2 linked regions of the Homo sapiens genome follow. The protein of the gene in region 1 purifies or fractionates together with the protein of each later gene. This does not show direct contact. Each region holds a gene or a part of one and is shown on either strand. Other genes may lie near its edges.

Region 1 (3,500 bases):
ACATTCAGCACCTCTACAATAACCAAGCTCACCCAAGAATAGTATCATACAAAAAGACCCAGGATATTAGAAGGAGAAAGAACACTTATTTTTGTGTATTATTTAACCACAAAAAGAATATAAGTCCTGTTCAATTTCCAGATCCTAAAAATGGAGGCCTTGTTTCCTAACGCATTGTTTATATTTATCAAAATTCCATTACAAGAAACTGAATGTGGAAGTCATAGAGTGCCCATAGTGGTGGGAGTTTACCTGAATCATGTAGCCCTTTGCCACCACAAAGGAGCAAGCGCCCAAAGGGACTAGGCTTTAGTCCAGCCCAGCTTGTCTGCACAATGGGAGGTCACTGGAGGTCCCCGAAGGCCACTGCATCCCTCTGAACGCAGGTCTCTCATCTGCCGATCACATTCGTTAGCAACCTCTCTCTTTTTTCTCCCCTCTATTGATTTGGGAGAAAAATAGATTAACATGTTTCTGTTATTTTAAAGATTGAGTAAAATACCAAACTGTTCATTTTAATAGGTAGAGTATTATAGAATCTCAACAGGAAAAAAAAAACATCCTGAGTAGAATAATTACATTCATTTTCAAGGGGGTAATACCACTCACAAGGAAGCAAAAGGTGGCTCAGCAGGGAGACTACTCTTACGTAATAAAGCACAGACTTACCTGCGGTCCATAAACACATGCTTTATCTCTGTGGTGTTGAAACTTCATGGGGAGAGAGATGTGGAGAAAAATGTCTAAAAGGCTCTTTCGGGGGACAATAATGAATGAAAATAAGGTGGAGAAACACTGATTTAAAGAAAATGTTTTCATAACTCTGAGATTTTACAGTTGAATTTTTATAAAGGATAATAATGATGCATAAAATATTTGCCACTTCATCCAATGATAAGAAACTTCATCCCAAAGATTTCAATTATTTAACTTCAACAAAATTCAGCCAGGTTTTAGAAGACCCCAAAATGAATGTCAAGAGTTAGCTAGTGACAAAGCCAGCATTGGCTTCAACCACAGGCTTCCCAGAACTCTTCAGAGAAAGCTCACCCAACTATGGCTGTCACCCCGTAGGCACTGTCACCTCAAATCCCTGTTTCAGAATGTGGAATTCCAAGTCTCTTGGCTTCAGCACCAAGGCTTTGTGTGATAATAAAGCCTGAAGCTGCAATGGAATCGGCTGTACGGTAGCAACCATCCAGAAAGGAAACACCACTGTTACCAAGAGTATCACAGTTGGAAGATGTTAGGTGGGGATCTCGTTTTAATACTGAAAGTTTAGGGAAATTAGTACAAAGCACCTAACTGTAGTAGAATTTGACAAGTGATGCACCAACTTCTTTTAAGTAAGCTTTTTAAATTGAAGTATAACTTACACACAGAAAAGTACGTAAATTATAAGTGAAAATTGATGCAAAAATAAATACACTCCTGTATCCAATACCCAAACCAAGAACATTTTCAGTACCCCAAAAGCCCCCTTTGTCTCCCTTTTCCATGATCATCCTGACTTCTATCCCCAGAGATTAGTTTTGCCTGTTTTGGGTTTTTTTTTTTTTGAGACAGAGTCTCACTCTGTCGCCCAGGCTGGAGTGCAGTGGTGCAATCTCGGCTCACTGCAAGCTCTGCCTCTCGGGTTCACACCACCTCCAGGGTTCACGCCATTCTCCTGCCTCAGCCTCCCGAGTAGCTGGGGCTACAGGCGCCCGCCACCACGCCTGGCTAATTTTTTGTATTTTTAAGTAGAGACGGGGTTTCACCGTGTTAGCCAGGATGGTCTCGATCTCCTGACCTCATGATCTGCCCGCTTCAGCCTCCCAAAGTGCAGTTTTGCCTGTTTTTGAACTTCATATACACGCAATCTTACAGTACACCTACGTGCATCTTTGTTGGTGCTGATAGCAGTTCATTTTTGTTGTTGTTGTTTAATATTTCGTGACTGACTATAACATAATTTAGCCATCCAGCTTACTCTTGATGCGTAGTTGGGTTGCTTCCAGTTGGGGCTATTAGGAATAACCCCACAGTAAATAGTCTGTGTCTTTTGGCATACATACATGTGTCTTTCTGTTAGATGTCTTATCTAGGAATGGAATTGTGGGATCATAGGATAGGCAGATGTTTTCCTTTAGTACTACGAAAGAAAAGTTTCAAAGAAAAGATGTTTTTCTTTAGTACAGTTTTGCAAAGTAGTTGCATCATTCACAGCTCTGCCAGCAGTGTGTGATTGTTCTGGTTGTCCCAGGTACTTGGTATCAGTCTTACTCATTATATCAATTCCACTGAAAATGCAGGGCTATTCTGTTGTGATTTGCAATTTCCACATACCTAATGAGGTTGAATCATCTTTCACTTATTTATTGACCATTGGGATATACATTCTTGTGATACATCTGAGATTTTTCCCCCCACTTTTCCACTGGGTTTTCTGTCTCTTTCTTACTGATTTTAAAGACCTTTTTATATACTCTAGATATGAGGTCTTTGTCAGAAATATGTATTACAGATATGTTGTCCTGCACTGTGGCTTGACTTTTCACTGTCTTAAAGATGTCCCTTTTACTTAGTGCTTTTTATGTGCTGTTTAAGAAATCTTTGTCTACCCAAAGGCCATGAAGATACTATCCTGAGTGTTTTTCTGAAAGCTTTATTTTCATAATTCACATGTAGATTTTGGGAACAAGGTGAGATGGGGCCAGTCAAGAGCCATGTTTTTTTCTGTGTGAATTTCCAACGTAGCATGGCACCATTGAAGTCCCGCCCTCTCTCCACTACATCACAGTGTCCTCTTTTTGGTAACTCAAGGGTCCGGGTATGCAGAGGGCCGTTTCTGGATTTGCTGGGGCTCTCTCATTTGCCTGTTGTTCTGTCCCTGTATCAGCAACATCACACATTAATTACGTGTTGATGTCTGGTGGTGTGACTCTTCCAGCTTTGCTTTTCTTCAAGGATTCATGGCCATTCTTGGTCCTTTGCATTTCCATATAAAGCTTAGAATCGCCTTCTAAATTTCCGTCACGCTAGCAAACAAACAAAACCTGCAGGGATTTCATTGAGATCTAATGTAATTGGCATCTTTACAATATTCAGCCTTCCAATCCATAACCATGGTATTTTTCTCTTCATAAGTTAGTCAAATTGTTAATAGAAGCAATGTCAAATCTAGAAATTATTTTATTATAAACTCTAATTTTTGTTTTCTTTTGAAGGCCACTCAATGACAAAAATAGTAACAGTGGGAATTCAGCTTTGAACAATGCCACACCTAACACACCAAGACAGAATACATCTACTCCTGTGAGAAAGCCAGGACCTCTGCCTTCTAGCCTGGATGACTTAAAGGTGACAATTGCAACTGGAGCTTATTCACCCCTAAGTACCACAAACATGTAAATGATTTGCCAGCGTTGTCTAGCAGACATTAAGTAGTTTTCAGTAGACATTCAACTTTACCAACAATATGATAATCTTTATAAAAGGTATTTTCTTTTTACTTCCAC
Region 2 (3,500 bases), on another chromosome or scaffold:
GAAAAATTAGAGTTAGTCACATTGAGAAATCCCCAGTTTTTAATAGCTCTCTTTCCTAAATACTCAAAAAATCCAGACTAGAAAAATGGAAGTGAACTGTTAGATAAACACGTAAGTACTCAACAAATATTTAAAAAGAAACAAACCAAAAATGGGGGAGTTGGGGGAAACAGGATGGCCTTATGAAACACTGTGGAGCTACCCAGCAGCAACATTTATAAAAGCTTGTGTAGATTTGCATAATGCTCCTATGCAATTCTTCCCCATTAGGAAGACATTCCTACAAATAATTCATCACTTTAGATTTTGATCATAGATCATTTATAATGGTTATCATGGTTGTATCTTTAAAAAATTTCATCCATTAACAGTTATGACAAACATTAGGCCATTCTTTGCTAGTATATTATTCCTCAACTATTACTAATGAAACCAAAACCTCAGAGTTGTTTGAATTAGAATTAAAATATTAAGCTAGAAAAGATTATTTAATTCTTAGAGAGATACCCAAAGAATTTGATGCTGATATTATCTCCCCTATCCTCTCATCACAACCCCCTGGCCTGCATTTACTTCCTTAATTCCATCTATATTCACCACAGTGATGTAGCTAAACAAGAACAATATTGCCCTTTAATAAGCTGACCTCTATCAAAGATCTGTCAGGTCTGAATACAGCATGCCCACAGGAAAGGAAAATTCTACTCAGTTGTGAACATCCACTCTGTTCAAGATCTTTGGTACATTTGGAGCATAAGAAAATAATGGCACAATAATACAAGTACTATCAAAGGAAAAATTTTCATCAAAAGAAATAAAAGTTAACCAGCCATGATATGTAACAACTTTCTAGAAAACCAAAGTAAATAGCTTTTTGTTCTCTATAAGTCCATTTACATGATAGAAGTTTGACATTTAAAAAAATAGTTTAATAAAAATACACTAATTCTACAAGCAGCCTTCATGGTCATGTCTTAAATTCAACTCACCATAATCAAATTAAAATAATGCCATGTCCTCTTGTTAAAAAAAGAAGTTCTCTTGTCACAAGAAAATCAACTTTACATGTTATATAATACAGTACATCTCCCTATGAGTATACAGACTACGTATATGAAGGTCATCAGTATTTCTGAATGCAACGTAAATATATTAGTGGAGTGCTTGAGTGAAGGTGTTAAACTTTGTCTTCCTTATTATAAACTTGTCACTCCTTACTGTGAAGTTTGTGTAATAACTTGATGATAAATTCTATTTTGTAAAGAACCAGTGAATTTCTTTTTAAATCTCTTAAAACCATTACAGAAATTGTCTTCATATATATTCTACAGATGTCCAAACCAATAGGGCAATGTTCTAACACCAACTATGGAAGATGGCTTTTACTGATTATCTAGACCCATAAGATTTGCAGTAAAACATCAATACTGCAGTGTTACCTACAGGTTAGCCTATGTTGCTTTAAATGATATGTGTTTCTCCTGAATTGATTAGAGGTGTTACAGTTCAAAGCCACAGCACACACAGGCAGAATGGACCTTAATACGCATGTAGGCAGTGCAGTTAGAAAGGGATGTCTGTTCCTTTTATTCCAGTACCTTCATATAATAAAGTTAACAAAAATAATAAAATATTAAAAAAAAGAGCCAGCTGGCACTGCCAACCAATTCCTATAGTAGTCTTAGAAATCCTAATCCTGTAGAATTTCCTCTTGTAGTCAATAAGCACCACCATCTTCAGGAGTATTTCAGTGTATTGTTATCTACGCCAAGCAAGCCTGGTGATGCAGCTACCTGAGTTCTCTTGGTTATGGGTGAATGTTATCTTCATTCATAACTTCCCAGCTTTCATGTAGGTGGGGATAGAGCCACGTTGAGTCAACCCTTCAAACCTTTTATAGGTATAATTGAGAAAAACCCAGTCTTTGGATTTGTAGTCCGGTTCTGTGGTATTTGGCACTAGAAAGAGAAAAAATAAAGGAATTTCATTAGTGAAATGCCATCATCTTCAAAGACTTTTAATAGGGTTAGTTACATTACAGATTGTCTTACCTGGTTGTAAAATATCAGATTCAGGGAAGTCATCAAAATTTGAAGTATCATCAATGCTTTTGATTTCTATAGGGATTGCTGCTGGCCTTTCCCTATAAAAAGGTATTAAGTATGCATGGTAACTTTTCTTGAACTCTCAATTTCCAACAAATAATTCTACTTGTAAATTCTGCATACTATTCTACAGATACTAGAAAATCCAAGGAAATTTATTGTGGATTTGAGATTAGTTAAAGGGAGTTCAAAATAGTTGAGTATAATTTTTTATTAAAATGTTTTCATTTACTTAGAATTTTAAATATTTTTTTAATTTTTGGGGTTATGTGGTAGGTATATATATTTATAGGGTCCATGAGAGGTTTTAATACTGGCATGAAATGGGTAATAAGCACATCGTGCAGAATGGGGTGTCCATTCCCTCAAGCATTTATCCTTTGAGTTACAATCCAATTACATTCTAAGTTATTTTAAAATGTACAATTATTATTGACTATAGTCACCCTCTTGTGCTATCAAGTAATAGGTCTTATTCATTCTATTTTTTTTGTATCCATTAAGCATCTCCACCTACTTGCCATTTTTATATCTCTGTACCCAAGGCTTTCTCATCCTATTTTTTTAAGTGGAAAAATGAGCTAATGAAAAGTAAAAGAAGAGGTTTTATTTAAAAGATTGTATAATTGTATAAAGTATTTGAGATATTATGAGGACAGGATCCTTCTTAATTGATTTAGGAATAGAATTCTACTAGTAGACAATCCATAAATTAAAAGTCATTTGGGAAAATAAGGGGCACATAGGTGAAGGGACTATATATTTGTGATGAAATCTGCATGCAAAAACTTCTGTCATACAAATTTTAAGAGAATCAAAGATACTCAGTTAAAAAGAAACCAGTCATGAAAATGCCTTCTTATCATGCTAAAAAGTTTAGCTATACAAATGGTTAAAAGAAGCTATCAGTTTTTATTGCTTCTGTTTTTTCAACAAATATTTATTGGATTTATTAGGTGCTAAGTTTACCAAATTATTTAAAACCATATATATTTTTTACCAGAATTATTCCAACTCATTTATACTTAGTATACTACTTTAATAAACCTAGTTTAGAGGAAAGAACCCTGGAGGCCTGAGAGCTAACCTTCCTTGTTATTAACTAGCAGTATGACCTTAGGCAGCCAAATCCCTGCTCCATGACTGTTCCCTCATTATAAAACCAAAAGAACTGGCAGTCTCTAAGCATCCTTCCCACTGTAAAAGGGAGGGTATTCTAGTTCTATTCAATTAAGTTATGTGTGTATAGTATTATACAGCATAGTGGTTAAGAGTTAGGCCTCCACCAGGAGAATGGCGTGAACCCGGGAGGTGGAGCTTGCAGTGAGCCGAGATCACGCCACTGCACTCCAGCCTGGGCGACAGAGTGAGACTCCATCTCAAAAAAAAAAAAAA

Evidence for each region. Proteins that work in one complex are often made in the same cells at the same time.
Region 2: the proteins of MRTFB (region 1) and STK38L purify together in Homo sapiens (pull-down; one large-scale study listed by IntAct). This does not show direct contact.

Annotation. Positions count from the first base shown.
Region 1 is NC_000016.10:14,242,319-14,245,818, forward strand, and holds part of MRTFB (myocardin-related transcription factor B), read left to right. Parts: intron 1-3,209; coding exon 3,210-3,342; intron 3,343-3,500. UniProt on the Homo sapiens protein: Acts as a transcriptional coactivator of serum response factor (SRF). Required for skeletal myogenic differentiation.
Region 2 is NC_000012.12:27,320,786-27,324,285, reverse strand, and holds part of STK38L (serine/threonine-protein kinase 38-like), read right to left. Parts: intron 2,144-3,500; coding exon 2,052-2,143; intron 1,959-2,051; coding exon 1,831-1,958; 3' UTR 1-1,830. UniProt on the Homo sapiens protein: Involved in the regulation of structural processes in differentiating and mature neuronal cells.